Homo sapiens: one gene and its partners. The protein of the gene in region 1 interacts with the protein of each later gene in a biochemical or structural test. Each region holds a gene or a part of one and is shown in the gene's direction. Other genes may lie near its edges.

Region 1 (3,355 bases):
CTTAAGACTTTGGCTAAAGTGTGTTGGCTTCTTTTTGAAGTGTATTTTGTGTGTGTGTGTGTGTGTGTGTGTATATATATATATATATATGCACCACATGTGTATAGTATCTTTTAATGCTCTGTTACCAAATAACAAATAGGAATTTTTTTTCTTGCAGATTAGAAATAAAAACGTGTATATAAACTCTAGGGAACCAGACTAGAAGTTTATAGATAAAGGATAATGTTTTATGTTGCTAATTTAATATGATAGAAAATGTTAAATAACTTGTAAAGGTTAAGAAATTGTAGTTTTAAGAAGAGAAACCTCTTACCCACTAGATGGAAATGAGAAAGAAGCTGTGATGAATGGTGCCTCATTTGGACCTTTGTTTTTCTGGAAAGACTCAACACCTGTAGTTGTAGAGAAGTGATTGAGGTTCTTGACTTTAATCTTGGGTTGATGCCCAAGCCTATACTAAGAGTCTTGTCAGAAGTTGGTAACATGGAGATGTTTTAACAAGAAGTGCCCATAAGCTGCCTCTGTGCCACAGTGTAATTATCAAATAGCCCCACTTGAATTTGAAAGCCATTTTGTGTGATACTGTCCTTCCCCTTGCTGTATCTTATTTAATGGAGTTAAAGAGTGACTATTCAGTATATGAGATTGCTACTCTTAAAGTTATAATAAATATGCATTTATGAAACAGTGTCTCTGGCTCACCCAGGAGCCCTGATGTGGTAATACAGGATCAAGCTGTAGTTGTGCCCTGTCATTTAGGTTTAGGAGTTTAGTGTAACCAACAGTGATTATACCTAGAAATAAAGCTGAGTGGAGAGTCCAATTAGCTTCTCAGGAGAAACTTAATGGGGACAATATTCCAACACAATGTTCCACAAAAACTTGTATTTCCAAAATGTTTTTAAACCTTTGTGGAAAAATTGCAACATCCTAATCTCCATATATAGTACATTTTCCTTACTGTATTATAAAATCTTGAAAACCTAGCTTAGGCACTGCACTGAACAACACATATTATTTTTATCTTTTTTCTTCTCAATGCCTTCCCTAACCTCCTGCTTATTCCAAAGTGGAAAGCAAAGGCTAACTTACATTTTTCCTTCTTGTGAAATATTTCATTGAGATTTTTAGACTTGTATTTTTCCTTTTTTTTAAAAAAAAAGTGTTTATTTCCTTTATTTTAAGATTCAGTAGGATAGCCAAATTCATAGAGAATAAAATTACATGAAAGAGTTACAAGCTCACTGTTTTAAAGACTTGACATTTTTCATTTAGTTTTAATTAACAGTAATAAGTCACCTCCTGTTTTTCAATGTTCACCAAAAAAAGAAACATAGAATAGGGGGAAAACATGCTTATATAGCCAAGGTACAGATCCAGATGATGTAACCTTTTTAGTATTCGCATGACTTGAAAACTGGGCAGATCAATAGATAATCGAAGTGCTTTATCTGAAGGGAGAGGGTAAAGACAGTGTGACCAGGTTTGTTTTCAGGGCTGCCGAATGAGCCTCACCTAACAGTGTCCATGGGTAATTCGCTAACCTTAACAAAGATGGGAAGAAGTGAGTGCTCTGATGTCTTCTGCTGGCTCTCCATAAGTACTGTAAATTTTTTTTATAAATAAAAACTGTGAATATATATGTACAAGTTGTAAGTATTTCCCCCTTTTTATTTTTGAAAATCAAGAAGCTTGATTTGGTGTGGTGCAATGGATATTGGATAAAAATTTGAAGACAAAATTGTTTAGTTACAGACTCAGGATAATAAAAGAAAAATATAAAAGAATGCTCAAGATACTGAAGTCAAGGTCACTAGTAATAAACTGGCTAGGTTGATAAACAATTTCCTGCCCATTTATAATGAAGGGCTAAACAAAAAATACCTGAAGTATATATAGAGTTTGAACTATAAACACGGAAGGAAACATGGGGCAGAACACACTTCCCTTCTCTTTCCAAAAACAAAAAACAATGCATGCTCTGATTTGCGTATGAAATACACCATGATAGAATTGAGATCTCCAATCTCCTTTCCTTTTAGCTTCCCCCTGCCAATTTTTATACAGATAATACACTGCAGATCCAGGCCTTTTAGTCAGTCTCCTGAGTCTCTGATATAGTTTTACTACTTACATAGGTTTATAGTCTCTCCACATTGTTATAAAGGAATGTAATAGATCATGTTTCCTTATATGACATTGGGACAGTTTGTTAGGAACCAATAGGAAAATTCCAAGCTAAATAAAAAGGAGCTTTGGCTCTTAGGATTCTCTTTTCTTCAGGTTAATCATATTTTAAAATTCTTTTTCAAGTTAGGTTGTTCGTGCTTTTAAGTTTTTTGTGTGTCTTCCATCACTTAAATATTAGTAATTTAATATGTTATTTGGTTCAAGATTTGATTGTGGATTTTCTATCATACCCAAATTTTATTAGTAAGACCTCTTAACAAGTCTTTAAAATCAACTGGAGAAGTAAGAGAACAGTTCATCGTTGTGTGGGTGAAACCCACGTTGCTGGTACAGGTGGCCATCATAGAAAAGAACATGAGGGAATTGTCCTGATGTCTGAATGTCATTTATTGTGTCTTCAGTTATCTGAACATCATCATCAATTATAGCCTGTGTACCGTAACCTGAGGTAGTGATATTCCTGAGGAGTGTGAAGAATTGGACACTGTGGATTACTATACATTGTCATGAAAGCCTTACAAGGAGGCAGCTTTTCTAGGCTTGACTTAATAACTTCAACCTAATTGCTTAGAGATTTGGATAAATAACCTAATGGCCTGACTCCTTTTCTAATGTTTTACTAACAGCTACTTCTAAATAAATATGGTCCCAGGATTTTAAAATTGTCTTTTCTATGCATTTTTTAAAAATGGAAAAAAATGCTCATTTTTCTCAACTATTGTGGAATTATTTTAATATTTCACAATATTAACATGAAATTCATAAAAGGATATTTTGCATTAAATTATAGTTTATAGTTCATAAAATAAGCTCTATAATCTTTATACTTGTTGAATGTAACTAGGAATTACCACTAAAATCCTAGCCAGGACCCTCTCCTAATCTAGATAGAATATATGGGCAGTTGTCCACACTGTGTGTTCTGGTTCTTTTTTGCGTAAGATCCAGTGCAAGTAGTGTCTTGGTAGGCAGAAACTGTACCCTCATGTCCAGACCACTTGTGTGTCTGCATAATAAAGCTGCGACTGGCCTCCATACATACATAGCTTAAGGCGGAGGTTGATGTCTTCACTAGGACATAGTCTATTCAAAGGCTGCTCTGTGAAGAAGGTAGAAAGTATTAAACCAGCCAGTAACTTTTTTTTTTTAACCTGATATCCTG
Region 2 (3,500 bases), on another chromosome or scaffold:
GACAGGACAAGTTGTGAGAACACAACCAGAAAAAGAATGACATCCCCGTTTAGAAGACTTAGGGAAAGAATGCTTTCAAGGGAGAGACTAGTCAACAGCCAAAAAGAGGACACAGATCACAATCAAGCTACAGAAAGCTGTGAGAAAGTGAAGGATGTTGGAAGCAACATCAAAGATGAGAAAGGGAGTGCCATCTTCAATTCAAATAGCCAAGGCAACAGTAACACTTTAAACTGCTTCTATACGCGATTCAAGTCTAAAAGGAGGAAGACACTCTGATGAAGTTCCTTATTTAATTTTAGTGTTAAGTTTGTTTTCAGTTATTAATGTATACATGGCTTAAATTAAACCATTTGTCAAAGCTTAGGCAGACAACTTAGTAAAATACTATTTATAAACACTTGAAAATGCCTCATTTGTACATAAGTTATTTTACTGATGTATTGAGTTAGTAAATTTTATACTCTTGTTTTCTGTAGTTGACTTTATTTCCTACTGTTAGCTGGATCTGTGAGTGAAATATGTAGAGGAGGCTTTTTTATCTTCTACTTTTTACGTATCTTTGATTGGGGGAGAAGGGACTAGTCTAACATAGCAATATCAGAATCATCTGGGAAACTTGTTAAAAAATGCAATTACTGTGTCCCACCCCAGACTTCATAAACTTGAATTGCCAGAAATGGGATCTGGAATGTTTATTTTAATTGGCTTGCCAGGTGGTTCTTAGTATTATTATATTTGAGAAATACTGATCAAATAGACATAAGAATGAAATTATTTTTTAAACAATGAAGCAAGATTATTGTGTAGAGCAATGACTTTTTCTTTTCAAGAAGAAGGTTTTTATTTATTTTTAATTTACTTATTACATCCACTTTCTTGGTCCTCTTAAAAATTGACTAATCAGCTCATGGACATTGACAAATAGCAGTGATCCCAAGTTCAGAGATGTATGATAGACGTCAGAAGACTGGCTTGTCTTGGCTTACCCTGTTCCTGTCCACGTAGGCCAAATATAAATCACACATTTTCTAGGCCTTTTTCTCTTTGAAATAGTTAACGAAACGACTTAATAAGATTACTGTGCAACAAATTATTCCTTAAATGACTTGAGTTATATGTGAATAACTCCAAGATCCATAAACAGAGAAAGACTTGGAACTAAGGATGTTGTCATCCTCTTTCTGCATGAAGATGAGGCCCTGAGAATTCCAGTAACATACCCAAAGCCTGTAATTCTTCCTAATGACATTTCTAGGTATTGGTCCAAAGGTCACATATCTACTAAACCCTACTTTCCTCTGTGAGCAAGAAGATATTTTTTACTTCTTTGAGACCCGTCCCTTGTTGGGATTACTAGGGCATTTTCTTTTTCTTTTATTTCTAAACAAAAATTTGGTTTCTTCCAGTTATCAAAATAGATTATTATGTACATTAGCCATTCTGTTGCAGATTTGTTTTTGGGTCCTTCACCTCAGTGCGTCCCTAGAATACAGAAGAACATCTCTCTAGTTGTCTGCTGTGCAGTAAGTCACAGAACAACATAGAACATGTAGATGCTGTTTTTTTCTATAACACATTATTAAACATGTATCCACTCAGCTGTTTAATATTCTGCAAGGTTGGTGAAGAAAAAGGAAACTAAGTATGACACTAAGTTTAAACCTAAAACAATTTAAAAAACTGAAACAGGCTGGGCATGGTGGCTCATACCTGTAATCCCAGCAATTTGGTAGGCTGAGGCGGGAGGATCGCTTGAGGCCAGGAGTTGAAGACCAGCCTCGGCAACATAATGAGACCTCATTTCTGCAAAAAGTTTAAAAATAACTGGGTGTGGTGGTGCAGACCGTAGTCCCAGCTACTTGGGGCTGAGGCAAGAGGACCACTTGAGCCCAGGAGTTCGAAGCTGCAGTGAGCTATGATCGTGCCATTGCACTATAGCCTGGCAACAGAGCAGGACCCTGTGTCTAAAAAATAAAAATAATCTAAAACAGTGACTCTCAACTCAAGACAAGACTTCTTAGGTGGGATATGCAGAATATATGGGGTAAGTATATATAGTTTGATAAAGCAAAAATGTAGTTCTTTCCCTTGAGTCCTGGACTCCCACCCCTACCCTTACTTCAAGATGGTATTTGGGATTCAGATCAGGTCAAGAAATATTCATATTAATCAAAGGAAGGAGCGTTGGGTTAAAAAGAAGTTGAGAAACCCTAAAGACATGTACTTATTAATATTTGTAATCTTCTTATTTTATTAAATGATTATAGCTGTGGGAGAGCCTGAGAAAGATATACCTTTAAACTAGTTTTCTGAGTAACACTGGACTTTGACTGTCTTTTTCTTGAATGTGTAGTTGTATTGGTGTGGTGTGGATAGTAGGCAAATGGTTATGTAGGGGAATGTGTGGAGAAAATTGGCACCATTATATCTACATAGATGGAAACTAAAATTGCTTCTACTTTGTCTTCTGTTATTTTTGTGGGGTTTTTTTTTTTCATCCTTTCCCCTACTACCCCCACCATATGTTCCCTTTTTTTGTAGTTTGATCAGTGCTCTTTTCTTGTTCAGGTTACACACTTATTCCATCAGCTAAATCTGACAACTTGTCTGACTCCAGCCATAGTGAGATTTCTTCACGGTCCAGCATCGTGAGCAATTGTTCTGTTGACTCCATGTCTGCAGCTCTACAGGATGAACGGTGTTCCTCTCAGGCCCTGGCAGTCCCTGAATCCACTGGGGCATTGGAAAAGACAGAGCACGCTTCAGGGATAGGAGATCATAGTCAACATGGCCCTGGGTAAGCATCATTGTCTGTGTTCATAACACAAAACCCAAGCCAAGTGGCCACTGCAAGGAGTGCTCCCCACCTTGACCTTGGACCTCCCATGGGGTAATTGCAGAGTTATCCATAAAAGAATATGTGGGCCAAGCACATATTCTCTATTCTGAATATGTAAATAAGCACTATGTTGAAAGATGTATGGGTGTTCATTTTTAAAGTGTTACTAAATTCAAGTAACTTTTTATCATTATGTATCTTTCCAGTCAGAACTCAAAGTGCATCTGCTACTTATATAGGGGAGATAATTTTTGAAATTCTGGCTATAGGTTAATCAAAAAGGTTGTGTTTTGGAAAGTGCCTCGAGTGCTGTGCACATTGTAGACAGGTTGGGAGAGTAGGACTAGCCCTTGATCTCTGTCCTCTGAAAGTGTAATTTGGGGAGTAAGAATAATCACCTAGCAAAGGTTAATTAAAAAAAAAAATCAACTCTAAATTTCTATTTAGAATCAAGCAACGTGGAAATCTTTGAGAAAGTTTATTCTAACTGATAAATATTGTGAAATCTGGTCTACTTTAATATGAAAAATTTAAGATAAATTATTACCACATTTATAAAGATTTCTAAACTAGGATCTCTACACCAGAGGTCAGCAAATGTTTTCTATAAAAGTTACATAGTAAACATTTTAGACTTCACAGGCCATAAGGCCTCTGT
Region 3 (3,500 bases), on another chromosome or scaffold:
TTGGAGGCCCATTATAGTAGCTTACGACTGTAATCCCAGCACTTACAGTGGGAGACCAAGGCAGGCAGAACACTTGTGGTCAAGAGTCCAAGATCAACCTACCCAGCATGGTGAAACCCTGTTGTTGTTGTTTTTTTCTTTTCCTTTTTTTTTTTTTTTTTGAGACAGAGTTTCGCTCTGGCTAAACTCGTTGCCCAGGCTAGAGTGCAATGACGTGATCTTGGCTCACCGCAACCTCCTCCTCCCGGGTTCAAGCGATTCTCCTGCCTCAGCTTCTTGAGTAGCTGGAATTATAGGTATGCACCACCACACCTGGCTATTTTTGTATTTTTAGTAGAGATGGGGTTTCTCCATGTCAGCCAGGCTGGTCTCGAACTCCCAACCTCAGGTGATGTGCCTGCCTCGGCTTCCCAAAGTGTTGGGATTACAGGCGTGAGCCACTGTGCCCGGCCAATGAAACCCTGTTTCTACTAAAATTACAAAAATTAGCCAGGAGTGGCGGTGCACGCCTATCATCCCAGCTACTCGGGAGGCTGAGGAACAAGAATCTCTTGAACCCGGGGGCGGTGAGTGGGCAGAGGTTGCAGTGAGCCGAGATGGAGCCACTGCACTCTAGCCTGGGTGACAGAGCCAGACTCTGACTCAAAAAAAAAAAAAAAAAAAAAAAGAGAAAAAGAAAAAAATTAAGAAAAGATAATCCATTTGGCTCTTGTGGAGAGAGCAGAATCAGGAGACTAGGAGGTAGATGACTGCTCTAGTCCAGGTTCATTGCAGAGGAGGAGGAGAGAAGGGGGCCAAATCAGTATCTCTATGGTGGGTCTGTGTGCACAATAGATGTGCTCAAATGCAGATTCCTGGGCCCCACCCTCAGAGAGTTTCTGAAACCAGCAAAATCTCGCAGAAAAGAGAACAGAAAAAAGAAAGAAATCATTAGCTTTCTTGGTCATTGGTGATTGAAAAACCAATATTACCTTCAGGAATGGCTGGATGTAGGTGCTCAAACCATTCCATCAGGAAACTCTCCATCTCTTGGCTCTGTACTCCCACATGTGGGCTTCCTTCTAGACAAGCCCTCATGTAGCAAGGTTGCCATCTAGCAGATCTCAGCTTACATTCTATGAGCTTAGCAATTCTTACAGGAAAAGAGTGAAAATTCCAAGGGCTAACTCACTGGAGCAACTTGGGTTACATACTGCCCCGGTTGCTGCACATGGAAGGAAATCTAGCCTTTGTAGGATAAAAAGGAAATAGATATTGAGAAACTGAAATACCAATGCCAATTACAGTAAATCTGGCAGAGGGGCAGAGGCAGTGGCCAACACTTTGGGAAGCTGAGGCAGGAGGATCCTTTGAACCCAAGAGTTGGAGACCAGCTTGGGCAACACAATGAAACTCGTTTCTACAAAAAACTTTTTTTTTTTTTTTTTTGAGACGGAGTCTTGCTCTGTCACCCAGGCTGGACTGCAGTGGTGCGATCTTGGATCTCTGCAACCTCTGCCTCCCAGGTTCAAGCCATTCTTCTGCCTTAGCCTCCCGAGTAGCTGGGATTACAGCCGTCTGCCAACAAGCCAGGCTAACTTTAGTATTCTTTTTTCAGAGATGGGGTTTCACCATGTTGACCAGGCTGGTCTCGAACTCCTGACCTCAAGTGATCCACCCGCCTTGGCTTCCCAAAGTGCTGGGATTTCAGGCGTGAGCTACCATGCCCAGCCTTGAACAATTTTTTAAAAATCAGCTGGGCATGGTGGCTCACATCTGTAGTCCCAGCTACTCAGGAGGCTGAAGCAGGAGGATTGCTTGAGCTGGGAGGTTGAGGATGCAGTGAGCTGTGATCTTGCCACCGCACTCTAGACTGGGCAATGGAGTAAGACCCTGTCTCAAAAAAAAAAAAAAAAAATCTAGTGAAGACCAAGAATCTGCATCTAAGGCTTCCAGCTCCAAGGTTCAGACACCAGGAGATAGAGGGCTGTGCTTCCAGATGCAGTTGATAAGTGGGTAGCCTTTGTTCCCCAACTAAACCTCACCTCTACCAACAACTGCCTGCATGACCCATCCTTTCTTTGAGTCTCCATCCCTTTGTGTATAAGATGAGCTGATGACACCAACTTTGGAGGATGGCTAAGAGGACAAGAAGAACCCAGTAGAGGACCTGGAGGGAGGGAGGCCCCTCTCAGAGCCTCAGTTTCCCTTATCTATAAAACGGGTACAACATAACATGAGAAGTTGGTGCTATGGTGCATGTCCAGAGAGAGGAATGCCTCCCTTTTTATGCGGGCCCATTTCCTGGCCTGCAGGCGGCGACTGTGCCACCCTGCTGAAGAATATTGGAGCGCTGCCCGTAGAGATGGCCCGCATGTACTTTGCTGAGACGGTGCTAGCCCTGGAGTATTTGCACAACTATGGCATCGTGCACCGCGACCTCAAGCCTGACAAGTGAGCTTTGATCTTTCCCATCACTCCCTCTGTCCCTCGGGAGGCCAGGAGGCAGAATGGACGGGCCTCATCCCTGAGATCCCCACCTGTGCCTACAGCCTCCTTATCACCTCCATGGGTCACATCAAGCTCACAGATTTCGGCCTCTCCAAGATGGGGCTCATGAGCCTCACCACCAACTTATATGAAGGCCACATCGAGAAGGACGCCCGAGAGTTCCTGGACAAACAGGTGTGTGTGCGGGCATGGGGGTCGCTGAGGGTGGAGTGACCCTGCAGGACCTCGGGAACCCAGGGCCTGGTGGGGGGCACAGCTCTCCCTTGAGGGCCCTCCTCTGGCTGGGGCGTGGGCTGACAGCCTGCCCCCAGGTGTGTGGGACCCCAGAGTACATCGCGCCCGAGGTCATCCTGCGTCAAGGCTACGGCAAGCCAGTGGACTGGTGGGCTATGGGGATCATCCTCTACGAGTTCCTGGTGGGCTGTGTGCCCTTCTTCGGAGACACACCAGAGGAGCTATTTGGACAGGTCATCAGTGGTACGTGGCTTGGCAGTGTACAGGGGCAGAGTGTGGTGTGCACGGAGAGATGGACAGGCTCAGGGTTCCAGGGATTTCAAAAGCGACCCCCCAGAGGATCGCTTGCACTCAGGAGGTCAAGGCTGCAGTGAGCCATGATCGTGCCACTGCACTCCAGCTGGGTGACACAGTGAGATCCTGTGTCCAAACAACAACAACAACAAAAACCGCCCCTAAGTTCCGTTTTGTTTTGCAGATGACATCCTGTGGCCCGAGGGGGATGAGGCCCTACCTACGGAGGCCCAACTCCTCATATCCAGCCTCCTGCAGACCAACCCTCTGGTCAGGCTTGGGGCAGGTAAGTCCGCCATGCAGAGGAGCTGAGGGCCCACTGATAGAGAGCAGGCCTCCAAAACCCCAGGCCCAGCCTGTGCTGTGGCCCCGGGGCGGAAGACATGGGGGGCGGGGCTGGGCTGCTGGGTTGGCCATCAGCTGTGGCTGGAATCCCTTCCGTCCCAGGCGGCGCTTTTGAGGTGAAGCAGCACAGTTTCTTT
Region 4 (3,500 bases), on another chromosome or scaffold:
GATTAATAGTATCTCCCTTACCCATCGCAGGTGGTAGAAAGGGAGGAGTCACATGACTACCGCTGCCTCTTCAGGGTCTGTTTTGTTCCCAAGGACCCCCTGGACCTCCTGAAAGAAGACCCCGTGGCCTTTGAATACCTCTATCTGCAGGTGACTGGGTCTGTGCTTCCTAAAATAACAGTGGTTGTTCTCAAAGATGGTGCACTGGGTGATTTTGAACGTGAGCTCGAGGCCATTAAACAACTCCCTGGTAGGGATTCTCTTTATCTGAAGGAGAATGGGCCTGATCATCGCTCAGAATTCCCTTTTCCATCACTGAGTTGCTGTTTTAGCAGGTGTGCGATATCAGAATGAAATTCAGGCTCAGTCCTCAATGTAGATGATACATTTTCTAATACCATTTTAGGATCTTTAGAATTACAGTTTTTATTGCCAAAAGGGGCCTTAGTGCTTTAAAACCTCGTTTTAGAATGATGACACTGAGTCTTGGAAAGGTCGTGTGATTTGCCTGGGTCACTCACTTAGTGGCAGAGCCAAAACCTGGTTCTTGATCCGTGGCCTGGTGCTCCCCCTATTCTACCTCCTTAGATGAGAGTTATGATGCCATTTTTATTCTGATGAAAAATAATCATTTGGAGCCGGGTGCGGTAGCTCACGCCTGTAATGTCAGCATTTTAGGAGGCCGAGGCAGGTGGACCACTTGAGGTCAGGAGTTTGAGAACAGCTTGGCCAACATGGTGAAACCCCGTCTCTACCAAAAATACAAAAAATTAGCCAGCCGTGGTGGCACACACCTACAGTTCCAGCTGCTTGAGAGGCTGTGGCAGGAGAATCACTTGAACCTTGGAGGTGGTGTTTGCATTGAGCCAAGATCATGCCACTGCACTCCAGCCTGGGTGACAGAGCGGGATTCTGTCTCCAGAAAAGAAAAAAAAAAAGAAAAAGAATCATTTGGCAGATATCACCATTTTACAGATGAGATAACTCAGACTAGGTGGATTGGACTGCCCCAAGTCTTACAGAAATGGTGGCAGAAAATAATAATAATAGCAATAACAACGCCATCAATACTTTATATTTGTATAACACTGTGTGCCTTATACCTGCTTTCATATGCATTATCTAATTTAAGTCTCACAGAAACCACATAAGGTAGATTTTACTATCCTCATTTACCAGACACCAAATGCTTGGAGAGTCTTGGTAACTTAACCAAGGTCACACAGCCAAGAACTGTCAGAGCCAGCTCTCAAAGCGGAGCTCCTGGTCCTGCTGCCTTTCACCCGAGAGAACGAGGGGACACAGTATGTCTGCTTTTGTTTCCCATCTGCTCTATTTAATCTCTTCTAGAGCTGCAGCGATGTGCTCCAGGAGCGCTTTGCTGTAGAAATGAAATGTAGCTCTGCACTCCGACTCGCGGCTCTGCACATCCAGGAACGGATCTACGCCTGTGCCCAGCCACAGAAGATCTCTTTAAAGTATATAGAGTGAGTGGCAGGGGATGGCAGCTGCATTGCATTTATAACTTGCTGGCCCCTGGCCAGGAGGGCCAGATGCCACAGAAAGCTGATAGTCACCCACCTACCCATCTGTCTGTTGTCTTTCCATCCATTTCCCTCTGCACCCTCTCTAATCTGACCTGGCTCCCCCAGATGTCTGAACCTGGCTGCTCTCTCTGGGACAGAAGCCAACTCCAGATGGAATGTCACAGGATTCCCTTGTAAATTGCCTGTTCCTGGGAAGATGTCTTGGGAAATCAGTTGCCAGCATCAGTGTTAAGCTTTTCTAGGGGTGGGAATGCCTTGGAAGTTAATTTTTCCCGTGGATATGAACCAGTTCCTATTGCATTATGTCTCCACTAGAGCAGTTTCAAGTCCTACGATTCCAGCACCTTCTGATTCTTAGCTTAGAATTGTTCTGGACAGCATCACTCAGGTTTGCTAAGCCCCTCCCCAGATCTCAGCTCTGTCCTGCCTGAGCATCAGAATCAGATGGGGAATCATATTTTTAAAAATACAGCATATCCTTGGCCCTACCCCTGATGTACTAAGTCCAATCTCTCGCAGCAGGGCCTGAGAATCTGTAGTTTTAGCAATTTTCTGGGGGATTTTGAAGCTGCTAGGCTGGCACCATGCTGAAGCTTAGCCTAGGGGATTCACAGGAGCTCTGCGTTGCCCCATGAGAGTGTCTTGTACTCTCTTGTATGCTGTCATTATTTGCCATGTATTTTGTAGTGAAAAAGATTCAGAACTCCTGCTCTGACTGATAGATGGTCACACCACACCAAGAGTAATGAGCTCCCAGAATGATCAATGGGGTTTAGTTCCTGAATGCCTGTGGGGATTTTTGTGGAGAGTGTGTGTATGTGTGTGTGAGAAAGAAAAAGAGAGGAGGAGAAAGTGGCTCGTAATTGCTGTATTATGGGAACACTAAGTACTGAATCAAATGTAATTATGCTCTTCATTAGAGCCAAGTACCCTGTAGAAATGGGCCTCCTTGTCTCCAATGTCTCATGGCAGGAAAGACTGGGGAATAGAGAACTTTATATCTCCAACTTTACTCCGAAACATGAAAGGCAAAGACATCAAGAAAGCCATTAGCTTCCACATGAAGAGGAACCAGAATTTGCTGGAACCCCGACAGAAGGTAATGAAGGTGCCTCTGCCGACCCACTCAGCTGTCGTCTGTGAAACCTTAGGAAAAACATTTTCAACACTGCCTGGATTTTAGACCAATGAATAACTCTGACTTCAAGTGTTTTTTTTTCTCTATTAAGCAACTTATTTCTGCTGCCCAGCTACGTTTAAATTATCTACAGATCCTCGGAGAACTCAAGACATATGGTGGAAGAATCTTTAATGCTACTTTAATGGTATGTATTAGAGAACTGTGAAATCCTACTCACGTAAGGGACCTTAGAGATCCTCTGAAAATCAATGTGTCTTTTAGCCTAAAATTCCTGAGGACTCTGTCATGTACTAGAATTTGTCTGGTAAACTAAATAGTACACCACTGGAAAATATTTACCACGCGTTTGCTTGGTGCTACCCCTGTGATAGATGCTAGGGGAAGCAGGGCTGAATAAGATGTGATTTCCGTCCTTGAAGGATGAAACAAGCTACCCAACAAAATGAAGCAAAGCCATGAGACAGGTTCAGGCCTATTGCTGTGGAGTTTGGAGACAGAAGGTAGCACTGCTTGCTTCAGGGTAAGTATAGGGAGGAGAAGGGGTTAAGGAAAGAGGCAAGAGGAAGCCTGAATTTGGCCAGACTTCAGTAGAGAGGAAAAGGCATTCTGGGTCAGAAGGGGATGGTAAGCAGTTCACTCTGGAGCTTTGGGTATATGAAGGTGAAGAGGAAAATTGGAAATCATGAAAGAAAAATAAGAGTGTTTGACTGCCAAGCTGAGTCTCTGATTGTTCAGAAGGGAGGAATGAGGGGTGGGCCTGAGAAGAGAAACGAGAAGCAGAAAAGCCCTCTGCTCTCTTCCCATTCTCCTGC
Region 5 (3,500 bases), on another chromosome or scaffold:
TTTTGACTTTTTAGAGTGTCTACATTTAACTATTCGTTTCCAGAATCTATACCCTTTTAATCGTGGGAAAAATCAGAATTGACAGTGCCCCTCAATAACCCAGTACCATTAAAAAAAAATTGCTGCCAAGTGTTGGAATTGCTGGTAAGTAGTTGGCACCCTTTACATCATCAGTTAGAGTTATGACCCTTGATTGCATCCTTCGTGGGTGGCACAGTGTGTCATGGTTCTATCTGAAGATGGTTTTTCCCGTTCTTCTAATTTTCTGGTTCTTAAACTGCTTGATAGTTTACATGCAGTTTTACTTCACTGTTTCCTTGGTAACAGTTCTATATTATTTTCCATCCTTGTAGATGAGAGCATTACAGATGATTGCCTTATAAACCAGTAATAGTATAAAAACAGGCATATATTTTTATTGTTACTGCTCTTTGTATTGACTATTTTATTTGTAAAGCAGATGCATTCTTTCAAATGTTTATAGAAGAATGCAGTCCAGTAGAAAAACATATGATTATGCCCCTTTTGCCAGAGGGAGATGATTTGAGATCCAAAACTCATAGGGATGTTATTAAATTGAGTGATATGTTCATAGATTAAGTCCCTGATTTGGCTTCTTTTCTTTAAGCAAAACGGTAGACTTGATGATAATGATTGAGTCCCCACTGTTGATATGATGATTTCTTATAGTAGTAGGTAAATTTGGGGAATGCTTTACTTTGCATTTTCTTATAGTTGCATGGGTTATTTTGTGGTATATAGCAGTGACTAATATCTAATATTAGAATGCTAATTTTCTTACAAGTATCTTATATTTGAGGAAAAATACAAAATACATATGTATAGTTTCCTTAGATTTTTATGTCAAGTCCATTTAGATACTACTAAACTTCTGTCTTTTACCTTTATCTTATTCAGAATTAAATATTTCCCAGGGAAAAGGGGAAGTTAAAGAAGTAATGCAAAAGGTCAGGGTTTTTCCCATATCCCCTATTTTTACTGAGTAATTGTATTAATATTGCTGATAATAGTGAGCTCTGGAGGCTAGCAATGAAAAAACCCCAAAGACTCTGGATTTGAATTTTATTAAAAATGCTACTTGCTCATCTTCTGAATCCTTTCTAAGTTCTGCTGATTTTTGTGACTGTCAGGAGGTGAAATGATGAACAGTTTCATAACAGAACTAGATTCCTGTTTTAGGAATATTTAACTCTAGTTTCCCAAGAGTTGCTAGTTTGAAGCTGTGAAAGTCTAGTCGCTCGCAGTTCTGGGAAGAAGGCGTCTAGGTCAGGCTTTGTACCATTTCAAGCATCTCTCTCTCTCTCTCTTATTGTCTGGGGCAAGTGAGTTTCACCTTCTTGCTATCAGAATTTGGTACAGACTGACAGCTGCAGTGAAACTTACTTGTACTTTAAATGCATGACCTGGAAAGTCTCACTTTCTGCTTATGGTCCTTCCAGCTGTTCATTCTCCCCCTTTACATACACATACACTGTTCAACTTTAGTACTTTGTTATTTCATTTGAGGTTAACCGTGGAAGTTTAGCTGTAAGAGAATGTACATTATTGGTGAACTAGAAATGTATCTTTAAGGAATGAACTTGAAACCACTGGTTTCACACTTGGCTCAATAAGAAAACTCAAGACCGTTTAAAATCTTTGTTTAAGCATACCGTCCTGAAATCTACCACTGTTACCATCAAATGATCTTTAATCTTGAAAGCTAATCATAGCAGGAAAAGAAAATTATGAATAGGCTAAAACAGGGGTTGGCATACTGTGGCCTATGAGCCAAATCTGGCTTGCTGACTGTTATGGCATAGCCTGTGAGCAAAGAATGGTTTCTTTATTTTTAAATGGTTCAAAAATATCAAAAAAAGAATAATATGAAATTAAAATTTCAGTGTCCATAAATAAAGTTTTATTGGAACACATGTCCATTCATTTATGTATTATCTATGGCTGCATTTGCCTGACAACAGCAAAGTTGAATAGATGCCACAGAGACCTTATGGCCTACAAAGCCTAAAATATTTACTCTCTGGCTCTTTACAGAAAAAGTTAACTGACCCCTGGGTTAAACAATGCCTTTTTCCTGTTTTCTCTTCTTTATCATTAGCAGCACACATGTGGGCACACACATGTCAAATCGAGCATATTATAATAAATACTTGAATTCACTGACCCCTGGGTTAAACAATGCCTTTTCCTGTTTTCGCTTCTTTATCATTATCAGCACACATGCGGGCACACACGTCAAATTGAGCATATTATAATAAATACTTGAATTCACTAATGCACATTACCAGTTAATATAGACCTTATCTTTATTGAAACTTCTGATCTCAAATTACTTCTTGAACTGTTGGAAACTGACCATTAGAAGTGGACATAATTGTCCTACTAATTTGTTGCACTTGGAAAAATTATGCATGCTTATTCTTTGGTCACTAAGTTGACCTGATATTTTTGGGGAGCTGGAGAGTTGCTTGTTAAGGTGATGTTTGCCTTCCATAAATATCCAGTTCAAAATGTATGGAAAAAGAATGGGTGATACTACTTGTATAGCCTCAACCAATGTGTGCTGGTGAACTGATAATCAAGTCAACAGGAGAATGCCTAGTATTTCCTTACAGTACACTTGAGCCATCTGGTCCTAATGGCTAATGACCTTCACTAATCTGTTTCCAAATGGAAATAAAACCAGATAAGTGGATTTAGTTGTAGTCAGAGGAATGGAGGTAGGCTGTATCAATTTGGAGTTGAGTTTAATCTAACTTTCCTATGATTTGACTGAGAGCATTATAATGAGAAATCATAGACTACCTTTAGTTCTTTACAGCAAAAACATATATCAAAAGTATGCTGCCTTGCTTCTGAGTAATTTAGGTCATTATGTACTTAAGCTCTGAAAATTATCTTGAAGAAATCTAAGCCTTAGTTTTAGATAACAAAGTTAACATTCCCATTTTTTTTTTTTTCCTGGCAAAGAGATGAGAAGGGTTTTCTGCCAGAACTGTTCTTTCAGAAATATATTTTCAAGTATGGTTTACAGAATTTGGCATAAGATAAATAGTCTATACTAAATAATTAGTGAGTGAAGTCATATACAATTCATTCTAACATTTGTTGCAAACAAATTGTCATATTTGTTTAGCTGAACAATTACCATGTCAGTACTTCTTTATTGAATATAACGGAATACAATGTACATGTTAAAAGTAAATAGCCTGCTCTTGGACTTGGTCTCAGAGAATAAACTTTTATTTCTGTTTTTACATTTGAAGTATATATATATTATATATATAAAATATAATATATATATTTGGTGATTGATGGTTAAAAAGTCATCAACTTGTATTTCCAAGGAGTCTCTGTTTTACTGCTTTAAGCTCAATAAGCAAAGTTATGATGATATTGAAATGGGTTTTTATAGATGTCAGTAAGTTTTTATTTTAGAAAGTCTTTTTTGAAAGCTAGGAAAACACAATCATTTCTAT
Region 6 (3,500 bases), on another chromosome or scaffold:
GGCCCCGCCGCCCACCCCGCACCACCACTCGCCCCACGCCCACCACGAGCCAGTGCTGCGTCTCTGGGGGGCCTCCCCGCCGGACCCTGCGCGCCGGGAGCTGGGGTACAGGGCCGGGCTGGGCAGCCAGGAGAAGTCCCTTCCCGCCAGCCCGCCCGCCGCCCGGCGTTCCCTGCTACACCGCCTGCCGCCCACCGCTCCCGGGGTGGGGCCCCTCCTGCTGCAGCTGGGGACGGAGCCCCCGGCCCCGCACCCCGGAGTAAGCAAGCCCTGGAGGTCCGCAGCCCCCGAAGAACCCGAGCGGCTGCCGCTGCACGTGCGGTTCCTTGAAAACTGCCAGCCCCGGGCCCCTGTGACGAGCGGAAGGGGTCCCCCCTCGGAGGACGGGCCGGGGGTCCCGCCGCCCAGCCCACGCCGGTCCGTGCCCCCCTCCCCGACCTCCCCGAGGGCCAGCGAAGAGAACGGGCTGCCCCTGCTGGTCCTGCCGCCTCCCGCCCCCTCGGTGGATGTGGAAGATGGCGAATTCCTTTTCGTGGAACCGCTGCCTCCGCCTCTGGAATTCTCCAACAGCTTCGAAAAGCCAGAGTCGCCCCTCACGCCTGGGCCTCCCCACCCGCTGCCCGACACACCTGCCCCTGCCACCCCGTTACCCCCTGTGCCACCCCCGGCTGTGGCCGCAGCCCCTCCCACCCTGGACTCCACCGCATCCAGCCTGACATCCTATGACAGCGAGGTGGCCACCCTGACCCAGGGGGCCTCCGCCGCTCCTGGGGACCCCCATCCACCAGGCCCGCCTGCCCCAGCAGCACCGGCTCCCGCTGCCCCACAGCCTGGCCCGGACCCTCCGCCTGGCACGGATTCTGGCATCGAGGAGGTGGACAGTCGGAGCAGCAGTGACCACCCACTGGAGACCATCAGCAGCGCCTCCACGCTGAGCAGCCTATCTGCCGAAGGTGGTGGCAGCGCAGGGGGTGGGGGCGGGGCTGGGGCCGGTGTGGCCAGTGGGCCGGAGCTTCTGGACACCTATGTGGCCTACCTGGACGGCCAGGCCTTTGGGGGCAGCAGTACTCCCGGCCCGCCATACCCTCCTCAGCTCATGACTCCCTCTAAGCTCCGGGGCCGGGCGCTAGGAGCCAGCGGAGGCCTGCGGCCTGGCCCCAGCGGGGGACTCCGAGACCCTGTTACCCCCACCAGCCCCACCGTCTCGGTGACAGGGGCTGGAACCGATGGGCTGCTGGCCCTGCGTGCTTGTTCAGGACCCCCCACGGCAGGCGTGGCGGGGGGTCCGGTGGCTGTAGAGCCAGAAGTCCCACCGGTGCCCTTGCCGACGGCCTCCTCTCTGCCCCGGAAGCTGCTGCCCTGGGAGGAGGGCCCGGGCCCACCGCCACCACCTCTGCCCGGGCCCTTGGCCCAGCCTCAGGCCTCAGCCTTGGCCACAGTAAAAGCCAGCATCATCAGTGAACTCAGCTCCAAGCTTCAGCAGTTTGGGGGCTCCTCGGCAGCTGGCGGCGCTCTGCCCTGGGCCCGAGGAGGCAGTGGGGGAGGCGGAGACAGCCACCACGGGGGAGCCAGCTATGTCCCCGAGAGGACCTCCTCCCTGCAGCGGCAGAGGTAAGCGGGGGCTGGTGGCCAACAAGGGAGGCCAGAGGTGTTGATGGCATGGCTGTGTCCCTTTAGGGTCTCAGGGTGGCAGAAAGGAAACAGAAACCAGGTTGGCAGGAGTTTGCTGTCACAGAAGCATGCTTTCACAAATATTTTCTTTTTCTTTTTTTTTTTTTCTTTTCTTTTCTTGAGAGGGAGTTTCACTCTTGTTGCCCAGGCTGGAGTGCAATGGCGTGATCTCGGCTCACCACAACCTCTGCCTCCCGGGTTCAAGCGATTCTCCTGCCTCAGCCTCCCATGCCACCACACCCAGCTAATTTTGTATTTTTAGTAGAGATGGGGTTTCTCCATGTTGGTCAGGCTGGTCTCGAACTCCCAACCTCAGGTGATCCATCCGCCTTGGCCTCCCAAAGTGCTGGGATTACAGGCATGAGCCAACATGCCTGGCTTTTTTTTTTTTTTTAGAAACAGGGTCTCACTCTGTCACCCGGCTGGAGTGCAGTGGTGTAATCATAGCTCACTTGCAGCCTCAAACTCCTGGGCTCAAGCAATCCTCTGGGACTATAGGTGCACGCCACTATGCCTGGCCAATTTTTCTTTTCTTCTTCTTTTTTTTTTTTTTTTTTTTTTTTTTGAGACAGAGTCTCACTCTATTGCCCAGGCTGGAGTGCAGTGGTACAATCTCAGCTCACTGCAACTTCTGCCTCCCAGGTTCAAACGATTCTCCAGCCTCAGCCTCCTGAGTAGCTGCGATTACAGGTGCCCGCCACCATGCCCGGCAAATTTTTGTATTTTTAGTAGAGATGAGGGGTTTTGCCACGTGGGCCAGGCTGGTCTTGAACTCCTGACCTAAGGTGATTCATCCCACCTCGGTCTCCCAAAGTGCTGAGATTCCACACATGAGCCAGCATGCCTGGCCCTGGCCATTTTTTCTTTAACTTTTTGTAGAGACAAGCTACGTTGACCAGGCTAGTTTCAAACTCCTGGGCTTAAGTGATCCTCCTGCCTTGACCTCCCAAAGTGTGATTACAGGTGTAAGCCACTGGGTCCAGCCTTTAAATTTCCATTTATTTCAGTAGCTTCTGTTGTCTCTGCCCATCACCATCACAACCTACATCCCATGATGAACAAAAAGTTATTAACAGGCTGGGCGTGGTGGTTCACGCCTGTAATCCCAGCACTTTGGGAGGCTGAGGCGGGTGGATCATGAGGTCAGAAGATCGAGACCATCCTGGCTAACACGGTGAAACCCCATCTCTACTAAAAAAAATACAAAAAATTAGCCGGTCATGGTGGTGGGCACCTGTAGTCCTAGCTCCTCAGTAGGCTGAGGCAGGAGAATAACTTGAACCCGGGAGGCCGAGGTTGCAGTGAGCCAAGATTGCACCACTGTGCTCCAGCCTGGGTGACAGAGTGAGACTCCGTCTCAAAAAAAAAAAGTTATTAACAAAGGAGACTGGAGTGAGACCTGCTTATGTTTGTTTCCTTGGTGAGCTGCCACTTCTTTCTGACAGTCCCTGAAATCTGTGAGTCCCTTGAAGCCAGTGTGGTTCAAGACAGGATGCAGTTATAGGTGTGGTTCTAGAGCCCACCTTCTCAGCTTCCAGTCCCAACCCTGCACTTTCTACCTGGGTGATCTTAGGCAAATGAATCCACCTCTCTGTAGAAGTGGAATGGCCTAGTGCCAGCCCAAAGAGTTTTTGAGAGGATTTAGTGTGTGCCATTGTTGTAACATGGGATGGGGGAAGAGGGGGCCTCGAACAAGAGCCCAGCAACTTCTACGTGGGGAAATACGGGATGATGCAGATGCTTCCCAGAGCAGCCAGTCAGCTGCATCGTCGCAGAATTCGAGCCCATTCAAGACCTTCTAGTCCTAGAGAAAGTAGAGTTACATTTCT
Region 7 (3,500 bases), on another chromosome or scaffold:
CTACAGGAAACCCTCAATACATGTTACCTAATGCTACTGTCTGAAAATGTGTCCCAGAATCTCTCTAGCCAACATAAAAACACATTTTATGATGTAACTCTTTACATCATAAATTGAGGAGTATTTCAGTCAATAAATGTTTATAAATAAATTAACGGTCAGATGTATTCCAAGTGGAAATGGACCTGACATTTTATTTTTCTTTGCAGATCTTATATTGCACTTTAAACACACCTAAAATTGACATGGAAAGACTCTTAGGAGGACAACTAGGACTAGAAGATTTCATATTTGCCCATGTGAAAGGAATCGAAAAAGAAGTGAATGTGTATAAATCTGAGGATTCACTTGGTCTCACCATTACAGATAATGGTGTTGGCTATGCTTTTATAAAGGTAAGTTTTAAAAAATAACAGTGTAACCTAATTGAGGATAACATTTAAGAAAATCTACCAGGCCAAAGAAAGTTAGAAATGATCTTCAGAGTGAGAGCCCGCTCAGCAAGGATGCATGAATTGGTAATGTTTCACTTTCATTTTAAAAATGTTCAGATGTCAGTTTGTGTTTACTATTTTCTTAATTTCTTCCCTTTAGTTTAAACTTCCCCTAGAATTTAGAACTAACTGAAAGGAAAGTCTAACCCTGGTGCCTACTCATTATCCATATAAGCTTTTCCATGTCTGTAGGTTTTAACATCTGATGAATTTCTGGCTTATTTCCATTGAATTAGTGTTATTTTCCAACTGTTCCTAGTTTTGACTGCCTTATTTACTTCTTTAAAAATGCCCTTCAAAATTTTAGGAAGTATATAAAGTTGGATCTCTGTATCTGTAGGTTCTGTATTAGTGGATTCAACCAACCACAGATTAAAGGTAGTTGAAAAAATGGCATCTGTACTGAACATGTATGGCCTTTTTACTTGTCATTATTTCCTAAACAATACAGTACAACTGCTTATGTAGCATTGCCATTGTGTTAGGTATTATAATCTAGAGATGATTTAAAGTATATAGAAGGATGTGGATAGGTTATATGCAAATACTACACCATTTTATACCAGGGACTTGAACATCAGTGGAATTTTAGTATTGATGGTGTGTCCTGGAACCAATCCCCCATGGATACCCAGGGCCAACTGTAATTCCTTTATTCAAATACAAAGAGAGCGATATAGAGCTTCAAAGGCAAGATAAAAGTTTGAAATGGTGTGAAACTAAGAACTGAGGAGAAAGGTAGTCTCATCTCTTAAAAATAACAACTCTATTATTGTAATAGTTATAATAGTAACAGACTTATATTGAATGCATGTACTAGGCACTTTGCATACAATTTCTCACTTAATTCTCACAATTCTATTTGGTTGGTATTATGTTTTTTCTTTGTATTTATTTTTTTGTTGCAGTATAAGACATTTTTAATGTACAGCTTAATGAATGTTTACATACTTATCCCTGTTTAACCATCACCCAGATCAGGATAAATTGCATTTCTGCCACTCAGAAGGCTCATTTGTGCCCCTTCCCAGTCAATAATCTTTCCCCGCAAAGTAGCCATTATTCTGGCATCTATTGCCATGAACTTCATATAATCATATATTATATACTCCACTATTTTCGGCTTCTTTTGCTCAAAAAGATGCCTATGAGATCCATGGATAGGTACTATTTCCAACCTTATTTTACAGATGTGGAAACAGGCTCAGGAAGGTTAAGTAGCTTGCCCAAAGTTATACAGCTGGACACATTCAGGATTTGGATCTATGAGGTCTGACTTCAGAGCTGGCACTTCTATTCACTCGATTAAGAATTAATGATAGATTTCATGCAACAGGGAATATTTTGTGCCTTTATTTTGTCCAAATCTTGATTTGCTGATGCATTGTCACCATTAAATAATCTTAGGGAAGTTATCTTCTTAACTGTAAATGGGACTTTCGCTACCCACTTGATAGAATGGCTATTTTTAGCTCTGCAAAAGATATGACTGTGCTGAAGGTTGAGTGAGTGACCAAATGGAAAATCTGTGACTGGGAAAGTCATATGGGATTATCCAAGGGAAGCTCAGGACATGAGGCACAGGCAGCAGAGAAGGGCTTGGAAGTTTCACAAACGTGTGTGGATTTTTAAAATCTTAGCCTCTGACATTCAGAGCTTGTCTTTCTATTTTTTAAAAAATGCTTTGTCAAACATGTGCCTGACTCAGAGTACTAGTCACTAGCCCTGTGGAGATATAGGGCATGTTAGCAAAGGAGAAAGCAAGGCATAATCTAAACTGCCAACATATAGTTCAACTTAGAAGAGAGATGCACATTATACTGTATACATGGTTGATGAAATTTTTTAAAAATTGGGAGAGGATAATTTCAAACTTACATAAAGATTGCAATAATAATACAAAGAACTCCCATAAATCATTTATCCAAATCTCCAATTTTTACCATTTGCCATGTTTGAGTTTTTTGTTCTGTCTCATACACACACATATATATATATATACTCTTTACCCCTTAGTACTTCAGAGTGTAATTACTAAGAACAAGGATATTCTCTTACATATAACTACAGTACAATTATGAAATTCATACAGTCTAATATTGATATAATACTTTTAAACTAATCTATAGTTCACATTGTAGTCTTATCAGCGTCCTAATTGTGTTCATTATTTTCCCCTCATACAGGTCCAATTTAGGATCCTGTATTTCATTTATGTCTTTTTAGTCTTCTTTATAATCTAGAATAGTTGTCATGTCTTTTTAGTCTTCCTTAATCTAGAATAGTTCCTCAGCCTTTTATAGGATGTCCCTGAATTTGGGTTTTTCTGATGTTTCCTCATGTTGATAAATAGATTGTGCATTTTTGGTAGGAAAATTACATAAGTGATGCTGTGTCCTTCTCAGTGCACCACATCAGAAGGTACATGAAACTGGTTTGTCTCATTGTTTGTGAGATTAACTTTTGTCACTTGTCTGAGGTAGTGTCCACTAGTCTTTTTCACTACAAAATTATTTTCCTTTGTGATACGTAATTGTGGAGAGATGCTTTGATATCATGAAAATACCCTGTTTTCTTACTTGCATGGCACAAATTTAGTATCTGTTGATGAGTCTTACCTGAATTAATTTTTCCTATAATGGTTGAAAAAATGATGATTTTTCTAATTCCATCACTCCTTATATGTTTCTCTGAAAGCATTTTATGGTAGGGAAAAAGCTGCCCTTATTTATTGTCAACATGGGTACATGACTTCGTGTTTTACTGAATGGTTTATAGTCTGTTACTATCAATTATATTGATGCTCAAATTTCCTGAGACTTGGCCTGCAGGAACCCCTGTAAGTGGGCCCCCATGTCCTTTTGACATGGCTCCTATCATTTTATTGAGTAGGTTCTTACTTTCTAGAACACAACAAGATATTCTAGACCCATCTTGTATCTCCTTTTCCCCTGACCTAGAATCAACTATTTCTCTCAGAAGCTCTGATTTTTACTAGAGATTGAT

Evidence for each region.
Region 2: the proteins of TBPL1 (region 1) and RAPGEF6 interact in a test that uses a peptide from one of them, tested with the Homo sapiens proteins (one large-scale study listed by IntAct).
Region 3: the proteins of TBPL1 (region 1) and MAST1 interact in a test that uses a peptide from one of them, tested with the Homo sapiens proteins (one large-scale study listed by IntAct).
Region 4: the proteins of TBPL1 (region 1) and FRMPD1 interact in a test that uses a peptide from one of them, tested with the Homo sapiens proteins (one large-scale study listed by IntAct).
Region 5: the proteins of TBPL1 (region 1) and FRMPD4 interact in a test that uses a peptide from one of them, tested with the Homo sapiens proteins (one large-scale study listed by IntAct).
Region 6: the proteins of TBPL1 (region 1) and SHANK1 interact in a test that uses a peptide from one of them, tested with the Homo sapiens proteins (one large-scale study listed by IntAct).
Region 7: the proteins of TBPL1 (region 1) and GIPC2 interact in a test that uses a peptide from one of them, tested with the Homo sapiens proteins (one large-scale study listed by IntAct).

What each region holds. Positions count from the first base shown.
Region 1 is NC_000006.12:133,987,578-133,990,932, forward strand, and holds the end of TBPL1 (TATA box-binding protein-like 1), read left to right. Parts: 3' UTR 1-2,855; downstream 2,856-3,355. UniProt on the Homo sapiens protein: Part of a specialized transcription system that mediates the transcription of most ribosomal proteins through the 5'-TCT-3' motif which is a core promoter element at these genes. Seems to also mediate the transcription of NF1. Does not bind the TATA box.
Region 2 is NC_000005.10:131,432,730-131,436,229, reverse strand, and holds part of RAPGEF6 (rap guanine nucleotide exchange factor 6), read left to right. Parts: coding exon of another isoform or gene 1-279; exon of another isoform or gene 280-469; intron 470-2,571; coding exon 2,572-2,800; intron 2,801-3,500. UniProt on the Homo sapiens protein: Guanine nucleotide exchange factor (GEF) for Rap1A, Rap2A and M-Ras GTPases. Does not interact with cAMP.
Region 3 is NC_000019.10:12,862,515-12,866,014, forward strand, and holds part of MAST1 (microtubule-associated serine/threonine-protein kinase 1), read left to right. Parts: intron 1-2,294; coding exon 2,295-2,433; intron 2,434-2,531; coding exon 2,532-2,664; intron 2,665-2,801; coding exon 2,802-2,967; intron 2,968-3,202; coding exon 3,203-3,304; intron 3,305-3,465; coding exon 3,466-3,500. UniProt on the Homo sapiens protein: Microtubule-associated protein essential for correct brain development. Appears to link the dystrophin/utrophin network with microtubule filaments via the syntrophins. Phosphorylation of DMD or UTRN may modulate their affinities for associated proteins.
Region 4 is NC_000009.12:37,730,954-37,734,453, forward strand, and holds part of FRMPD1 (FERM and PDZ domain-containing protein 1), read left to right. Parts: intron 1-30; coding exon 31-150; intron 151-1,350; coding exon 1,351-1,487; intron 1,488-2,519; coding exon 2,520-2,646; intron 2,647-2,776; coding exon 2,777-2,872; intron 2,873-3,500. UniProt on the Homo sapiens protein: Stabilizes membrane-bound GPSM1, and thereby promotes its interaction with GNAI1.
Region 5 is NC_000023.11:12,141,473-12,144,972, forward strand, and holds part of FRMPD4 (FERM and PDZ domain-containing protein 4), read left to right. Parts: intron 1-3,500. UniProt on the Homo sapiens protein: Positive regulator of dendritic spine morphogenesis and density. Required for the maintenance of excitatory synaptic transmission. Binds phosphatidylinositol 4,5-bisphosphate.
Region 6 is NC_000019.10:50,664,303-50,667,802, reverse strand, and holds part of SHANK1 (SH3 and multiple ankyrin repeat domains protein 1), read left to right. Parts: coding exon 1-1,611; intron 1,612-3,500. UniProt on the Homo sapiens protein: Seems to be an adapter protein in the postsynaptic density (PSD) of excitatory synapses that interconnects receptors of the postsynaptic membrane including NMDA-type and metabotropic glutamate receptors via complexes with GKAP/PSD-95 and Homer, respectively, and the actin-based cytoskeleton.
Region 7 is NC_000001.11:78,080,466-78,083,965, forward strand, and holds part of GIPC2 (PDZ domain-containing protein GIPC2), read left to right. Parts: intron 1-209; coding exon 210-395; intron 396-3,500.